Linked DNA regions of Homo sapiens: region 1 is linked to region 2. The links come from fine-mapping of genetic effects on gene expression. A gene starts in region 2. The other region holds a variant in brackets. All regions are shown on one strand. Distances are from middle to middle.

The links.
Region 1: its variant is fine-mapped to the expression of DPYSL5 in prefrontal cortex (ROSMAP, PIP 0.95).

The regions. Positions count from the first base shown.
Region 1 is chr2:26,932,663-26,941,846 of GRCh38, reverse strand. It overlaps DPYSL5 (dihydropyrimidinase like 5), which reads right to left. Exons shown (of 13, transcript NM_020134.4): 7 at 8,514-8,589; 8 at 7,113-7,269; 9 at 1,675-1,816. Among named protein-coding and RNA genes, the nearest start is that of MAPRE3, 33 kb to the left of the region's middle. RefSeq lists an enhancer at 6,995-7,494. The variant A/CAAAA (reference allele first, on the strand shown) is at 4,105.
Region 2 is chr2:26,842,597-26,851,780 of GRCh38, reverse strand. DPYSL5 (dihydropyrimidinase like 5) reads right to left here and starts at 3,649. Exons shown (of 13, transcript NM_020134.4): 1 at 3,527-3,649.

The sequences.
Region 1 (9,184 bases), 90 kb before region 2:
AGGACAGTGGTCACAAAGGGACAAGGCCATGAGCACCATCTCAGATGAGCCAGCCTGCTTGGCTGGGTCCCAGTTGCTCACTTATTCCTTTCTCCCTTCACCCAGCAACTATGGTGAGTGGCCGTGGTTCCATTCAGGCTTCCTGCCCGGGGGCAAATCTGCCTCCTGTTTGTAAAACCAGCTCTGCTCATGTGCCCACACGGATGAGTCAGGAACCTCCCTTCATCTACTAAGGGTGATATTTTCAAAGGGTTATATATGCTCTAGAAAAACATCTTATTGCCCCACCCATGAGAGTACTATGGACTCTCTTCAAGGGGATTTCCTGAGCCATCTCCTTGGCCTTCCATGAGCTTAGTCTTGAGAACTTCAAATCTCTTTGGGGCTCATACTATTTTAGATCTAATCTGAGATAGATCAAGACCAAAAATACTTATTCTTCATGTGCGGAACAGGTGGTATTCAAATGAAGTCCCAGTTCTTATCTTTTCTGAAAGCAATTAGACAAAATATATCAAATCAAGAGCCTTAAAAATGTTCACATCCCTTGGCCTAAAAATCCACTTCTAGGATGCTGTCTTAAGGAAATAATCAGAAATAATAATCAGAGGCCGGGTGCAGTGGCTCATGCCTGTAATCCCAGCACTTTGGGAGGCCAAGACGGGCGGATCACGAGGTCAAGAGATCGAGACCATCTGACCAACCAACATGGTGAAAACCCGCCTCTATAAAAAATACAAAAATTAGCTGGGCATAGTGGCGCACGCCTGTAGTCCCAGCTACTCGGGAGGCTGAGGCAGGAGAACCGCTTGAACCCGGGAGGCGGAGGTTGCAGTGAGCCGAGACAGCGCCATTGTACTCCAGCCCGGGCAACAGAGGGAGATTCTATCACACACAAAAAAAAATAAATAATAATAATAATAATAATAATCAGAAATGCTGACACACACTCCTGAACAAAGAGGTTCTCCTCAGCATTATTTGTAAGTGCAAAAATTAGAAACAGCCGAAAGTCCCAAACATCAGGGAAGGATTAAATAAAGTATGGTACTTTCATTGGAGAAAATATCATTCAGCTCTGAAAAAAGATGTTTTTAAAGAATTTTTACTGATATAGGGAGACACTCAGGGTATAGTGTTATATGAAGAAAAAAAATCCTGGTTAGTATAGCAGTTGGTAAAAGAAAAAAATATGAAGCCAGTTATTAAAATAATGTATAGCTGGGTGTGGTGGCTCACACCTATAATCGCAGCACTTAAGGAGGCAGAGGTGGAAGGATAGCTTGAGCCCATGAGTTCAAGACCTGTCTGGACAACATAGTAAAAAAGGAAAAAAAAAAAAAAAAGTACAGTACATGCACAGAACTAAATGAAAGAAATATATTAAAATGTTAATAGTAGTTTAATTTCTAGGCGTGGAATTAAGGTTTCTTTTTTTCTTATACTTTTCTGTATTTTCCAAATTTCCATAATAGGTCTTACTACCTTTCTAATTGGGGGAAAGACCTTTTGTGTTTTGTTTTTGAGTGAAACAAACAGCTGGGATTGAACCAGCCCTTCTAAGAACATTCTTTGACAGGATCTGAGGAGTGAATACTCTTATTGGGATTAGAACGGGGATGAAACGGGGATTAGAGCAGGGATCAGATCGGGGCGGGGCTCTAGGAAACATACCACTCCTCTCTCCCAGATGACGCTCATGCGGTCCTGCACGCCACTCACTCCATGTGGGATCTTGGTGAAGTCTTCCTTGCCCATAGCTTTCTGCTTTGTGGTGAAAGGCCGGTGATCTGATGCCACGATGTTCAGAGTGTCACTGGGTAGAGAAAAGGAGGTGACCAGTAAGGGGAGGGGAGGTGAGGAACTTAGAGGGTGAGGATAGATATAGGGAAAATCCTCCGTGTGGGAAGCAGGCAAAGCCGACTCCAATTTCAGCTCTGCCGCTTAGGCCATGTGGTCTGTCGTGAGTTACTGCATCTATGTGAACCTCAGTTTACTCATCTACAGAATGAGTGTGGCACAGTCTGTCTGTGTCACAGGAGACTTCAGTGAGAGCCTTGGGATAGCAATGTTTAAGAGTGAAGATAGCAGAGAAAAGCCGAACTTAGAGTCTAGCTGAAGTGAGATGGTGGAGGTAGTTCTACTCTCATGGAATTGTATACCAATTCCCTCTCATCAGCTCTCCAACCCCAACCTGCTGGCAACAAGCATTCACAAGTTCAGTGTTAAGCTTTGTTGAATAACTTGGACTCATAGCCTTCCTTGGATGTGGGGATTCTAATGGCCCAGAAGGGGAAGGAGGGATGAGCTAGAAGCCTGACTTAATAGACCGAGAGTGGTATGCAAGCCACTCAGTTCTTCCCCAATGCCGTTCATGACTACGGTCCTCACACATATATTAAGGCTGTCCTCGGGCCAGGTGCTCATGCCTGTAATCCCAGCACTTTGGGAGGCCGAGGCAGGTGCATCACTGGAGGCCAGGAGTTCGAGATCAGCCTTGGCAACATGGTGAAACCCTGTCTCTACTAAAAATAGAAAAAAATTATCTGAGCGTAGTGGTGGGCGCCTGTAATCCCAGCTACTCTGGAGGCCGAGGTGAGAGAATTGCTTGAATCCAGGAGGCGGAGGCTGCAGTGAGCCAAGATAGCCCCAATGCACTCCAGCCTGGGGAACAGAGGGAGACTCTGTCTGAAAAGATGAAAAAAAAGCCATCCTCCATCCAAGGCTGTGGGTGGCTAAGGCACAGGCAGGCCCTCGAGGGGCTCCTGGGCCAAAGAAGACGTAGGGAAGAACAGGGAGAGAGGGCTCATGGCAGCAGATCCTCTGCCCAATGAGGGAGGCAGGCAGGTGGCCTGGATTCAGAGATCTCTGCAGGCCAAGGGCTCAGAGGCAGTGAGGGGCGGAGGAGAGAGAATGCCCACGCAAACCAGGTCAGGGCCTCAAGAGGAAATGGCTTTGCGGGGCCAGAGAAAGGCCTGGCTGGAGCAGGGGAGTCAGGTGGGGGAGGGGATGACTGCTGGGACCACACTGTGGGTGCCCTGAAGGTCAGGGGCAGGGGTCCCATTGTACTCTGTAAGAGGCCCCAGAGCCTTGTGAGTGCCTGTGGGCCATCTAAGATGCCCACTCCAGGAGACTGTGGGGGCAGAAAGCATTATCTGACCTGGTGAGGAAGCATATTCTTAAGGCTCTCAGATGATGGCCAGTTAGCTCCATAGGGCTGTCTCCACGGGGGACCTGGCAGGGCTTATCAGTCTCAGCTCCTGCCCAGTGACTAATGTCTTTGGCCAAACCCGTGGTGAAGATGCATCGCTCTTCCTGTGCGGTAGGCTGGGCCTTCTCTGGGCCAAAGAGGCTGCTCTGGCCCTTGCAGAGACTCTTTGCAAGAGATTCTCCCGCAGAGCCCCAAGGCTCCCCACACTCTCTGGACCTGCAGAAGCCCTGATAGATGAATGGAATCTTTAGGGTTTCCTTTCTCCTGAGGGGCCCTCTGGATACCTGAGCAGGGCTCAGGGCAGAAGATGCCCACTGCAGTCATGAAGGGCAGGTCAGGGACCCTGAGAGCAACAGGCTCAACTCCTGCTCTTTAACCAGCAAGTCTTCCTGAGCACCCAGCTTTCTGAAAAGGCTCCTACACAAAGGTACCCACTAAGCAGCTGTGAATGACGGTAGTTACATTCTAGGAGGCCCTCTGAGCTCTCTCAGTGCTGCCCTGAATCTGGGAGGTAGGAAGCCCCCATCCAAACCATTTAAAGTTTAAAACATGACTGGCTTTGCTAAGCACTGTAACATTTTATATGATCAAATGAAAAAATTTCTTGTCCCTTTAAGAAACCAGATTTTAGGCCAGGTGCAGTGGCTCACATCTGTAATCCCAGCATTTTGGGAGGCCGAGGCGGGTGGATCAGTTGAGGTCAGGAGTTTGAGGCCAGCATGGGCAACATGATGAAAAAATACAAAAAATACAAAAATTAGGCTGGGCACGGTGGTGCAGGGTGGCTCACGCCTGTAACCCCAGCACTTTGGGAGGCTGCACTCCAGCCTGGGAGACAGAGTGAGACCCTGGCTCAACAAACAAACAAACAAACAAACAAACAAACAAACAAA[A/CAAAA]AACTAGCCAGGCATGGTGGTGCACACGTGTAGCCCCAGCTACTCAGGAGGTTGTACCACTGCATTCCAGCCTGAGTGACAGAGCCAGACCCTGTCTGAAAAAAAAAAACAAGCCAGAATAAAGCATAAATAGTTATATCTATAGATTGTACTTTTTTATTCCTGCAGGGCCTAACAAATCACAAATCATACCCTAAAGTAGATAATTAGGAAACAGCTCATATTTTCTTATAGGAATAATAATTGGTGTCTGAATTTTCTATCAAGTATCTTGCATCATATAAATTATAACCAATAATGTGTTACAAAAGCAAAATTATAGTCATCATAAATTTCTATAAATATTAAAATATTAAAATTATGCTCCAAATCCTATAAAGTAGCACCCATTTACAATATGCACTGATTAAAAAGGGATTAAAAAGGGATTCAGACTATTATCATAACACAAAAAGTACATTTCTACTTAAATAAATAGAATTAATTTAAATAATTAAAATACATTTGACAAAGTAAGCTAGATATAAAAACTTAAATTATTCAATGATACTTATTCCAGTCTATTTGAATTTGTGTGGGTTTGGGCGCTGTAATTTGGGTGGGTTGAAGCACTTATTATCTTTTTTGTTCTTTCAGTAAATTTGCTTGTAGCAAGCAGGGGTGTTTCAAAAGATTCTTGACCTTGGAACCAAGCCCACATTATTATAGTGGAGTCTTGGTAATTGTTTCTTTTATTGTATTGCTGATGATGAAAAGGAGGTTGATTCTTCTCAAAACAAGCTTTTTTTTTTTTTTTTAAATGAAGTCTTGCTCTTGTTGCCCACGCTGGAGTGCAGTTGTGCGATCTCAGCTCACTGCAACCTCCGCCTCCTGGGTTCAAGCGATTCTCCTGCCTCAGCCTCTGGAGTAGCTGGGATTACAGGCACGAGCCACCATGCCCAGCTAATTTTTGTATTTTTAGTAGAGACAGGATTTTACCATGTTGGCCAGGCTGAACTCCTGACCTCAGGTAATCTGCCTGACTCCGCCTCCCAAAGTGCTGGGATTACAGGTGCGAGCCACCATGCCCAGCCAAAACAAGCATTTTTTAAGAGTAAGAGCTGATCTAGCATTTCTCTCTTAATCTTTACCCTCCATATTTATTTACATAATGTAAATATGTAAATATTGTAAGAGCTGCTGCCGCCTGGCACCCACCAAGGCTATGGGACAGAATACAATGACCATCCCCATGCCGTGGTGCGTACTGCCCTCCACAGAGGCCACCTTCGCCCACGCCCCTATCGATGGCACTCCACTCGCATTGGCTAAGCCCTGCACCCCCCAACTCTGTTTAGGTTGTGAACATAACGGGATGGGAGTGGGAGTTTTCCAGTGGTTGGCAACCAGAACTGAAAGCTAAGGACATGGATGAGACAAGCACCTTATTATCTAAGACAGCCATCTTCGGTGGGGCCAGTCGCTTCCCTCCACTGCTCCTGCACCATCTTAGAAGAGGCGAATCCCCATCCCCCAGGTCTAGAAAGCGGGACCCTCGGAGGGAGACTGAGGGGTTGGCAGGATGGAGAGTCCTGGCATTCCCTCCCCTCCTCTTTCCTGAGTTGAGTGGGGCTTCCATACCCTCTCCTCACCAGTCCACCCTGAAGACAAGGAGGGCATACTTCAAGAGGTTCACTTGTGGAGAACAGAGCTGAGAGCAGTGGGCACCTTGCCTGGACTGTGGGCTATGGACCTGCCTCTGAGCCACAGGGAGCAGAAAGGCTGTGTGGGCTTCCTCTGGGCCTCAGATACTGTAGAAGGTGGCCAGGCATAAGTTGCCTTGTGCAGGTCCTTGTTCACAGAGGCATTGCCAGTGCTGCAAGCTGGGAGGGATGCATGCTTGGGTATGGAGAAGAATCCCCTCGCCTTTTGTCCTAGTCCTCCTACCCCAACCCAAGCTGAGCTGGGGATCAGGAGGGAAGGAGATGAAGTCTTAAACTGGATGGAACTTTAATACCCAAAAGTGAAGAGAAAGCATCGTCTTCTCCCCCAATTTTTTTTTTTTTTTTTTTGAGATGGAGTCTTGCTCTGTCGCCGGACAGGCTGGAGTGCAGTGGCATGATCCTAGCTCACTGCAACCTCTGCCTCCTGGGTTCAAGTGATTCTCCTGCCTCAGCCTCCCAAGTAGCTGGGATTACAGGCACACACCACCATGCCCGGCTAATTTTTTGTATTTTCAGTAGAGACAGGGTTTTACCACGTTGGCCAGGCTGGTCTTGAACTCCTGATCTCAAGTGATCCACCCACCTCGGCCTCCCAAAGGGCTGGGATTACAGGTGTGAACCACTGCACCTGGCCCCAAAAATGTTAATAGGAGAGAGAAAGAAGCTGCAAGCAGTTATTGGGATAAAACAGAAACCCTTCCATAATTGGGTCCCACTGAATTCAGACCGTTCATCAAACCATTTCCTTTAGATTGGGATTGCATGGGGAAAAAGCAGTGTCAGAAATAGAAGAGCTGGAGAAAGGAGATCTGGAGGAAGGGTGTGGGAAGGAAAGGGGGAGAAAGTGCAGAAGAAAAAGGGAAAGGGGAAGGAAAGGAGGAGAAACCCACAGAAGGAGGGATGTACAGACAAGGGGCACACGGGAGCCAACAAGAAGAGGGAGAGGTGAACAAAAGAAACAGAAAGGACCCCTACATTCTAGGATAAGTCACAGGCCACGTTCTGCAGCTCCCCACTGGGCTTTAGAGTAAGAGATCAATGTCCTTTGAAATTCCGAATAACCACGGTTCACAGTTCTATATGTGCTCTTCACTCTTATACTTCAGAAGATCTCACTCCATATCAAGCGGTCATAAAATCCCAATAGGATGGCAATTATCTGATGGGCTCAGAGAAGGTAAGAAAAGCACAATGATCCTATGGGCACAATGAAATCAAACCTAGCTCAGATTTGTTTCCTGGGCCCTCTATGACGTCTTCCTAAAGATGTACACATCCCTGCAATGTGCTGCTGAAACGCCTTACTTGGCCAGCAGGCTCATGAGGTAGGTTGAGGTGTTGGTGTCCAGTCTCAGGGGAGGCACCGTGACATAGGCAGCCGCGTGGGACCAGTCCTGGTGGTAGTAGTGTAAGCCTGTCAGCGTGGCATGTGCAGTGGTGGTCTCCGCCAGCACAACCTTCCCTGGAAGAAGAAAGGTCAGAACCATAACCAGGAAGCCACCGAACCTGAGCGATCGCTGGTGTGTGCCTCTCATTTTACAGGTGAAGGAGCTGAGGTCAGAGACAGGAAGGGACCTGCCCAAGCTCACAGGGCTTTTAAGAGCACAGCTGGGTTCAAGCCCAGAGAGCCTCCCTATTCTGCTGACTTAGGCAAGGAGGACAGAGGGACATGGGCACCGAGGCCCAGCAGGACCAAGCGGCACTTTGAGGAGTCTGGTTTGGCCAGATGACCAGAGCACTGGTGTGTGCAGGGTGCTGTTGGCAGATGGAGCTTGACGGTGGGTGAACAGGCATGCAGGGCCACGAATGCCACGCTAAAGAGCAGTCTAGACTGTTTTCTGGACAGGCAGTTGCTGTGAGCAGCTTCAAGAGAACGGTTGTGGTAGGACAGGGAGGGCCGTAGCAGGGCTGGAGGACAGGGAGACAGGAGGTGGGAGCAGTCACCAGGCTGGGACGACAGTCTAGGCGAGACCCTCCAAGGGGCTTCAGTGAGGGGAGAGGCAGGTGGCGGGATCTAGAGGGCGATAGAGTTGAAGGCCAGGATGCCCTTGCTTCTGATCGATTATAGTTGAAGGCTGAGATGCCCTTGCTTCTGATCTGTCTCCCCAGGCTTGTGACTGTGACTTTGTTTCTCCTGCTGCCAGGCCCTCACCAGCACCTGGGGCGGGGCTGGACTCCAAGCATCTGCAAGCCTTTAGGTACTGCCAGGCGATCCGCAACAGAAGCCATACAAGTGCCCCTCGGACTCATACACAGGGTTCCAGGAGGCTAAAAGGAAGCTGGGCCCACACACTGTTCTTTCTTTAGGGACTTCCCAAACAGCCCCTGAAATGCCCACTGAAACTGGTCCAGCATTTTATGTTAGTTGCCAAGGCAACTGCTAGTAAAATCTATGAGGCCAAAAAGACACTAATTAATGAGTGGGTTTAAAACTTGGAAAATGTTACCAGACCCAGGAGAAGTGACAGACACTTCCGTAAAGCTGTTATGCATACAAATTTGCAGAAGAAAAAGCTCATGTTCTAGCAGACTAAAGCCAGCATAGCACAGGGCAGCTCTGAGGAAGACGGTGGCAGATGAAAGGGAAGGGCTGGCTCAGGTCCTGGTTTCAGGAGCCGGGGCCAGGAGTGAGCACGGCTAATGGGCCCCATCCATCTCCAGTCCCTCCACTTGACCTGCTCTGTCCAGCCAAGTCTATGGACTCACCTTGCATCTTAGCAGCTGCGATAACGTCACCAGCCGAGATACTGGACACGTTGACCAGGTAGATTGGACAGTGAGTCTAAACACAAGAAACAGTGGGAAGTAGGGAGGGTTGACCCATAAACTTCACAAGCATCAGAATAACCCTGGCAAAGTCAGCCCTGGCACCAGCGCCTCCCCCTGCGTCACTCAACCCCACCCTCAAGGTGACAGTCCTTAAGCGGAGAATGCAGGGCTGGCAGTCAGGGCAAGGTTGCAGGAACTGCATGATACGGGGAGGCAGAGAACAGCCTCCAGCACCAGAGCCCACCGGGAAGCCCAGCCTGTGAAGTTCAAGACCGTCAAGTCTGAACCTCGCATTTTCTCCCATCTGACAACCATGACTGTAATTTAAAAGGGGGGAACTCTTTTTCCTATTTTAATTTCCTGTTCATAAACGTGATGACCTAGAGTTAGTCGTGTATTCTGTATCTAAAATTACGATGCCTGCTGTCTGAAGGCTGCTTATCAGTAGACAGAATGCACCCTGGAGATGAACAAAATACAAGGGGGTTAGGGTTCAGAGTCTAGGCAAGAGAAGGCTGACCTTGCGAACGGACACCTGGACTGTAATACTGGTTAGCTTTTTCTCTACTAAGCTGTGCAACCACGGTCCATGGCTTAACTCCTCTGAG
Region 2 (9,184 bases):
AGTAGAGATGGAGTTTCACCATGTTGGCCAGGCTGGTCTCGAACTCCTGACCTCAAGTGATCCTCCTGTCTCAGCCTCCCAAAGTGTTGGGATTACAGGCGTGATCCACTGTGCCTGGCCACAATTTACTTTTACCCCAGAGACCTGCCTATAGTCATGCTGTCCTTTGGCTTATAGTCCCGTGGAGCTAATGCAGGATCATACAGAATCCTGGGTCAGAGAAGCTATTAAGGGGAAATTCTCAGATAGCTATGGCAGGAGAAGAGACGTGGAAGTGCCACAAATGAAGTTTACGCCAAGTCCTGAGACCTGATTTTGGCCAACTGTGTAAACTTGCCTTGCTGTGGAACTCTTTCCAGAGATAGAAGCATTAAGAATAATGCAACAACCCTGCTAATGTTTGCACCTAGAGAGGTTACGCTGACAACAGCCAGGCCTTCACGTCAGGCTGGTCATACCGGCATTCCTTGTCTATGGATTCCCTGCCATGAGGAACAGACTGCAATGGATGTTCACAGAGTGCTTTAAGAAGATTACATCCTTTTAAAAATCCATAAAATTATTACAAAAAAGAAGCCAACAAAACACTCCTTCCTGAAATTGTTCCCTTTGGGTAATAATATGAAAACATGTTTCCCATTGGAGCTCTCTTACAAGAAAAAACCTTCACTGTCAGATTTCTAGGTTTCTAATATTGAGATTCCTAGTATTTATGTACTCTGAATCCATGTTTGTGTGTATGCATAAATACACACATGCATATATAATTTAGTAAAATATAGTATGTGTATATATATATGTGTGTATATACATATTAATATATACATATATATAATTCAGTTAAAATATAGTTAAAAACAACCAATGAGCAATGTTCCAGCTAGTCCTTCCAGATCAGTTTTGTAAATTCTGTGAGGCACCTCCTCAAAACACCATCCTTTAAAACCAGCAAGACATAGCCTACTGCTGACTCCCTATGGCCAGAAAGGACACTCAGACAAGAGGCCTTCACTTTGACAGCTATCATCTGTCCTGGGCAAAAGCCAACAGCCACAGCACAGTCCTTCACCTTACACACTAATCTTGTTAAGAAAGCAAATCCTGAGATTTCAAGGCTGGGTTAAGAGAACCAACAGGTTCTCAGTTAACTTAGTGGCAAATGTAAGTGGCATCAATGAGTTCTACAATGCCAAGTATCGCCCAGTCTGGGAACAAAAACATTCCTGCCTTTTTTTTTAATGAATGGCAATTTAAAATGATAACTTTATGCTAAAGATTCACCTTTAACTTGTCATCTAACCAGTTATCAAAGCAACAGTGCAACACAGAATTCTGGCTTTGGGTGTCACTTCACATGTCAAGGCGCTGCAGCGGTGACTTGCAAGGTGTTTAGACGGCGGGCGAGAGGCTGAGTGCGTGGAAAGCCCTGCTGAAAGCCTGTTTTAAGCTTCCATTCGGTTCATCTGCTTTCCCACGGGCAAGCAGCGCCTATCACAGAGCTACCCCAGTCTTAGGTCAGCAGACAATATGGGCGAAGTCTGCAAGAGACGCACTGGCTTGGGTGTGGTCACTGGCAAAGAAAAGCACTGGACCCCTAGCAGCGGCTCCCAAACCTAGAGCCTCACCCTTGCGGGATCATTTCCACCCGCTTCTCCGCAATTTGACCACAATCCGCACCAGCCCTTACGGCTCCCCCTGAGAAAGCACAGCTGCAGCCCCTAGACTACGGCCGCCTCGGCAGACAAAGCCGCTGCTCGGGGGAACCCGCGCTGCACCGAGGCGACCTCCAGTCTTTGGCACCTGCGTCGCCGCCCGGCAGCTCCGCGCCGCTAACCACGCCGCGTCTCGGCAGCGGGTGGACAGCGCGGGGCGGGCGGCGGCGCTGCACCAGAAGGCACCCGAGCCGGAGTGGGGGGGTGGCTGTCTGCAGGCCCCCAGGCCGGGGGAGCGCCTCCCACACGGGATTCCCGGCGTGGCCAGGCCCCCATAAAACCCCAAAGCCAGCACGTGCCCGGAGGTTCCGCAGGGAGTATTCCCAGCACCAGAAAACTGCACCCTCGCGTCCTGGGTGGCCCTGGTTTGTCGTCGGATGGACACCAGGGTCGGCTATTGTTCTCCGGGTCTCCCCGAAGGGAGATCCGCCTCCCTGGCAGCACCTGCTGCTGGGCAAAGCCTTTCAGCTCCTCGAGAAAAGGGCGTGCCGTGGGCGCCGCGGAAGATCACAAAACCCTAAGCGAGTCGCTACCGGCTGGTTTCAAGCCTGGAGACAAAGCTCCTCACCAAGCCAGCCCAGCCCGGTCCCGGATCTGCCATCCTGGGTCCCTAACCCCGGTCCGAGGGCCACGCCCAGCCGGCCACCTGGGCCGCGGGGCCCCGCGCCTGGAGCTGAGGATCCTCGGGCCCGAGACCGCCTCTCAGCTGCTTGCCCCTCCCTCCTCGGGAGGCTCCCCTTCCCAGGAGGCCCCCCTCCCCCGCACAGCGCGGGTCTTCTCCTCGCTCCCGTCCTCCCTCCTCAAACCCAGGCGGCCTCCACCCGCCTGCATCCCTCCTCCCCTCCCCATTCTTCAGCAGAACCAGCCTCGCCGGGCGCCACCTGCACCGAGCTCCTTCCCTCGTTCTTCGGACCCGCCCCCGCCCCTTCTCTTTCCTCCTCAAACCCTAGTTCCCACTCCCTGCTCCCCGAGACCCACTACCTGTCCTAACCCAGCTCCCCAGCCTTCCCCATCCCCATCTTTTCTCAACCGAGGCCTCCCCTCGCCCTCTCCCGGCTTCTCTCCAGCTCAGACTACAGCCCCGTCCCCAGGCCCGGGGCGTCGACGTCGGTGCCCGCTGAGATCGATGCTGCAAGGCGGGCTCCCGCGCTGGGCTCCAGCCGAGGGACCCGGCTCGGCGCCCGCTCCGGGCTGGGCAGCCGCAGGAGGCCTTTGTGGCTCAGGCGGGAGGCTCGGAGGCGGCGGGCGAGTCCTCTGCAGGCGTCCGCTCCGTTAGCCGGGCGGTGGAACAGACCGCCGGGTCGGGTCCAGGCTGGGCAGATCCCAGCTCGGAGGCGAGAAGGACGGAGGGTGTGTATCTGGGTGGTGTGTGGGACCGGGGACAGCGCAGATCCTGGGACCGGCAGGACTGGCCCCCGGCCAGAGGCGCCCCCGCCCAGCCCTCCAGCGGTCCACTGCACCGCGCCCGGCTAGGAAAGCGGCCCACTGCGTGCTAGGCGCGAAACCCCTCGGCCGAGCCGCCTCCTCACCCCAGGGCTTTGCAACCCCGCGAGCACGCATTAAACGCTTACTATGAGCAAGGCCCGGCACGGCGCTTCGCGGGCGTACAAAGAGGACCCCAAGAGCGCCCCGGCTTAGCCCCGATGGCCACCTCCCAACCCCAAACCACACCTCCCGCCGCGTCCCCTGCGGCCGGGCCCCAGGCTCACCCGGCTCCCCGCCCTTTTGTGCGCCTCACGCAGAAACAGAAGGGGGAGAGGAGGATGTCCTAGCCCGGGAGGGGTAAGCCCACCGACCCCCCTGCCATCACCCACTCCTCCGAGATGCTGCGGCCGCGGGGGCCCGTGGCTCGGTCCGTCTCCGTCTCGCCGCGGCGCCGGAGCTGCGGGTGCTCGGGGCGGCGGCGGCTGCACGCGCGCTCGCTCGGGGGCCGCCTCAGCGCGCCCAGCGCGGGAGTCCAGAGTGGGGAGCGGGGGAGGGGCGCGTGTCGGGGGCTGGGAGCGGCCTCCGCCAATCACCGCGCGGCCGGCTCCTCCCGCCGCTCCCCACCTCAGCTAGCAGGTTAAGGGGAGGCGGGGACAGGCGGCGTCCCGCATCCTTGGCGCCGCGCGCCGCCGCCGCCTGGGGACTACAACTCCCGGCAGGCCCTGCTGCAGGGCCGGGGTCCGAGAGCGGACGGAGGGCGCGGCCGGAGAACTCACCGACCCCCCTAGCACCCGGCTCCGCGTTCCCTCGGGTTTCCATGGCGACTCAGGACACCACAAAGCCTGGACGCGCTGAGGCACGGGTCCCCAGGGAGGGCCGGGGGCGGTTCCGGAGGACACCCCGCCTCCCCTCCCCCAGCTGGATCCCACCCCAGGGGCTGAAACAATGCCGCGGCCGCCTCTCCCGGGCTGCGGCCGCGCTGCCCTCCGCCGCAGGACCCCGCCGAGGCCGCCTGGTTCGCGCCAAGACCCGCTCCGACGCCCGCGGGATTGCGGGATGCAAAGGGCCGGGTGGGCGTTATAGGAAAACTGTTCTCATGAACAAAGTGGACGGCCACTTGGGGCCACCGCAGTTCGCATCTGCACCCGGGGAGGTCTCGAACCCGGAGTGCGTTCTCTCCACTGAGAAGATTTTGCCCAGCGCCACGCGGGTGCTTCCCTGTCCAGAGCGCTCAGGCCCAGTGCCTGTCTTATTTCTGGCTTCTGTCAAGGGACAGCGAAGCCTTTGGAAATTATTTATAACCCAATTTACATTCGCTTCACCTGTTTCTTCATGTTTAAATACATACATAATTTACCAAAATAAACAAATCTAAAAAAGGAGAGGAAGGATCATCCCCGGTTTGTCCCACCTCCCTAGCTAATCCCGGTTCAAGCCTTTGCCATTGATCTGTGTTATTTTCTGCAGTTGTAATAATAGTTTGGATTAGTCATTTGCCTCTTTGCACTTAATGTCACTCCAAAGGCGTTGCGATGCGCGTTAAAATGCAGCATCAAGGACCTCCAAGCTGCAGCTGCAGAATCCCTCCCTCCCCGGGCTCCCCGGCGATCCGGTGGGGAGAGGAGTCCCCTGGCAGCCATGGCCTCGTGAGGTGGTTCTCTTTGCAGGATACTTTCAAACAAAATGGTGTTCACTACTCCGGGGGCGTGGAGGGGGTCCCCTCTCCCCATCTCAGCAAAATCTACCCGGGCGCAGGACCCGCAGAGCCCGCCAAGGCGGGGTTCCCTGCCGTCCTTCCCCAGAGAGCTTAGGGCCTGGACCAGGCCAGGCTGGCCTTTGAGGGATGCATTTCTGGATTACCCCACCCCTGAGTCTGCACTCCTTCTCCCCTTCCCAACTCCCGCCTGCTTGGTAAGCAGAGAGCAGGGAGCCCCCAGAGGAACCTCAAAGCATCCCTAACCCAGTGCAGCCCGGGATGTGGCTGTGAAAACTGCTCCAGCTTGGGGCACTGCCCTATGGATTCTCCAGGGCTTGCCCGGACAGGGATGTAGGCAAAATGGACTGGGCTTCAGGGAGGTGGCGTGGAGCTGCCAGCGGCCTCCCGGCGGCGGGGTTCCGAGACTACCGCGCGCGGGCGGTGCTGCGCTTTTTGCTTAAGGGAGAGAGAGCCCTCTAGTGACTGTAAATGTTTTCTGCAGCGTCTCGTAGACCTTAAATTTGGATTCTAGCATCTTAGCTTTCTTGGGCTACCTTCCCTAGTCAGCGAAACGGCTGCCTCTACGTCATCTGTCAGTTTAGGATATTGATAAAGGTTGCACCCAAACCGGGGGTTGCATATGTCCTCAGTCCTCGACTTCGGTTTGTTGTTGCTAACTTAGGCTCCGTTTCCTGGGAAGTAGAAAGAGCACAGAGCTGGGAGTCCCGCATTGCTGGGTTGGAATCCTTGCTCCTTCAGTTTCTGCCGACTTGACCTTGAGAAAGTGACTTACTCCATCTGACCCTTAGCTCCACCCAGAATACTGGGGTCATATACATTCTTTTAACCTTGTCGTGGAAATTAAATGAAGAAAGGTAGATAAAGGCCATAGCACATTGCCTGGCATAGTGTGCATGCAACAAATGCAGCTATTATTATTTATCCCACAGAAAGTGGTTATTGAACAGTGTGAGGGATATAAGAATATGTGACACTCCCCACAGTAACAGCCACAAAAGGCAATATGTTGTGATTTTTATTATAAAGCTCATATTACTACTCGGTCAGATAAAGTAGAATAAGAATTCAGACGAGAAAGAAAGCAGTTCTGCATAACACTGGGAGATGGAGGAGCTAGAATTTGGATTTCACCTGGATATTGATTTGATGGACAGTTCTAAGCAAAGGTCTGAGATTCTGGGGTGAAGGAGCAAAAGCTTATGGGTGGGGAACCCAAGCGGGTATTTGGAAGACAGCAGAAGAACCCACCATGTCTTGAAAGTCAAGTCCCTGAATGAGGGTGATGGGAAGAGAATGGGGATGGTGAGTTAGGCAGGGGTTGGGGGTCAGACCTCACAAAGCCCAGGGCTACTGGTTTTTATGAGTAAATGTGTTCTGAGTTCCCAACAGCCTTAACAAACTTCAGAATAAATACAAGTTAAAGACCACCATGAAAGGAGGAGGGAGGAAAATCGCACTGTCTGAACTCCTATTATGAGCCCGGGTCTATTTGGTGTTTTACAACACATCATTTAATCCTTGCTACTCCACACAGGAGGTAGCATTGCTCATTTCTTACAAATGAGGCTATCTGGATTTAGAGAGGTTAAACGATTTGCCTGCGAAGTCACACTGCTGTAAGCAGCAGAGCCAGGATTCCAAAGGACATCTGCCTGGTGCAAAGCTGAGCCCTTCCTGCTTCAGCACGTCCTCCCTGCCAGCCTCCAGAAGGCCGGATCTCCAGTGCAGAGAGAGCCTGTGACGGTGAGTGACCCTCAAGGAGAGCCTGTTGCCAAGTCATGGAACCCAGATGTTCCTTCCTCTGCAGCGGCAACCTGTTCCTCCTCGAAGTGCCCCCGGGAAAGGGGCTCTCCAGTATTCCCAGGAGCTTTGTATAATATTAAGTTTCCTCCTCATCCTTCTCTTTTCACCTTTTTTTGCTCCTTATACTTCTCAGTGACAACCCTAGTGTGGGGAACACATTGTGAAGTCTAGTTAGCCATTAAAAAAAAAAAGTGAGGCCAGGTGCAGTAGTTCATGCCTATAATCCCAGCACTTTAGGAGGTCAAGGTGGGAGGATCACAAAGCCCAGGAGTTTGAGATCAGCCTGGGCAATATAATGAGTCCTTGTCTCTGCAAAAAAATTTTAAAAATTAGCTGAGTATGGTAGCAAGTGCCTGTAGTGCCAGCTATTCAGGAAGCTGGGGTGAAAGCATCACTTAAACCCAGGAGGCAGAGGTTGCAGTGAACCCAGATTGCTCCAATGCACTCCAGCCTGGGTGACAGAGGGAGACCCTGTCTCAGAAAGAAAAAATAGGCCAGGCATGGTGGTGCATGCCTATAATCCCAGCACTTTGGGAGGCCAAGGCGGGCGGATCACCTGAGTTCGAGACCAGCCTGACCAACATGGAGAAACCCCGTCTCTACTAAAAATACAAAATTAGCCAGCCATGGTGGCGCATGCCTGTAATCCCAGCTACTCAGGAGGCTGAGGCAGGAGAATCACTTTAACTCGGGAGACAGAGGTTGTGGTGAGCCGAGATCACGCCATTGCACTCCAGCCTAGGCAACAAGAGCAAAACTCCATCTAAAAAAAAGAAAGAAAAAAAAATAGGCCGGGTGCGGTGGCTCAGGCCTGTAATCCCAGCACTTTGGGGGGCCGAGGCAGGTGGATCACCTGAGGTCAGGAGTTTGAGACCAGCCTGACCAACATGGCGAAACCCTATCTCTACTAAAAATACAAAAAATTAGCTGGGTGTGGTGGCAACCGCCTGTAGTCCCAGCTACTCGGGAGGCTGAGGCATGAGAATCACTTGAACCCGGGTGGCGGAGGTTGTGGTGAGCCGAGATCGGGCCACTGCACTCCAGCCTGTGTGACAGAGCGAGACGCCGTCTCAGTAAAAAAAGAAAAAAAGAAAAAAAGAAAAAAAGAAAAAAAAATTTGGCCGGGTGTGGTGGCACAGGCCTGTAATCCCAGCTACTCCAGAGGCTGAGGCCGTAGAATCGCTTGCACCCGGGAGGCAGAGGCTGCAGTGAACTGAGAGCTTGCCATTGCACTCCAGCCTGGGTAACAGAGCAAGACTCCATCTCAAAATAAACAAACAAACAAATAAATAAATGTCAACCAGCAGTCAAACCTGTGTATTCAAGACAGTGCCACAAAGCAGGAGCCAAATTTAAAAAGCACGGGGCCGGGGGGGCAACAAGACAGACAAACAGACTTTGGGAGAGGGAGACAGGACAACAGAGGCAGCATGAAGAAGATCTAAAGACATAGAGATATTCAGATACACAAACAGGGGAATGAGACTGGAAGGGTTCCAGGCCCCAGAGCAGTAACTACCCAGTCAGACACAGGGGATGGAGGAGGAGGCCTGGGGAGGCTGAGGGGGTGCTGTGCTAGAGCTGAAACATCAAAGTAAATTCCAATGGTTTATCACTACCCTTGAAACGCCAAGGAGCTCTCCGAAAATTTAAATCATTCCTTCTGGCCTAGGAAAGTTTTGGTTTTTTTTTTTTTCCTGCTTTTATTTTTAAATTTCAGAGTTTAATTTTGAAATGCAAGTTTGTCTTCTCTTGGAACGAGAATGGCCACAAACCAGCATAAAGGAGGAACTGCTGGATGATTCCAGCTGCCCCAGCCTTGTAGCAGAAATCTAAAACGTTAAATTGGCATTTATTTCACGCACATATAGAGGTTCTTTAAGCCAAACAAAGCAAGAAATTGCATAGTCTCACAATGCCATCATTATCCAGATGAGGATAATGAGGCTTTGTTTTAAGCCTTTTTTCTCCCTTAACAAATAAAATTCGAGTATTAGAAAGAATAATAATGAGGACAAGAAACATAAGTCAAACAATCACCTTCAGGGAACAAAAGAATTACTCTAAGAGCCAGATCTTTAATCACCTTTTGGTTCCCTACCTGTCATTTTCCACAACACAGGGCTTTACTGAGCCCCTACTGGTGGAGGAGCTGAGAACATAGGAAAGAATCCTCTCACCCATGCCCCCAAATTTAATTTTTATTTATTAGGTGAATCCAAAGAAGTAAGCCAGTAAGGCCAGGTGTGGTGGCTCACACCTGTAATCCCAGCACTTGGGAGGCCAAGGCGGGTGGATCACCTGAGGTCGGGAGTTTGAGACTAGCCTGGCTCACATGGCGAAACCCTGTCTCTACTAAAAATACAAAAATTAGCTGGTGTGATGGTGCACGCCTGTGGTCCAGCTACTCGTGAGGCTGAGGCAGGAGAATTGTTTGAACCCTGGAGGTGGAGCCAAGATCACGCCACTGAATTCCAGCCCGGGTGACAGAGTAAGACTCTATTTCAAAAAAAAAAAAACAAAAAAC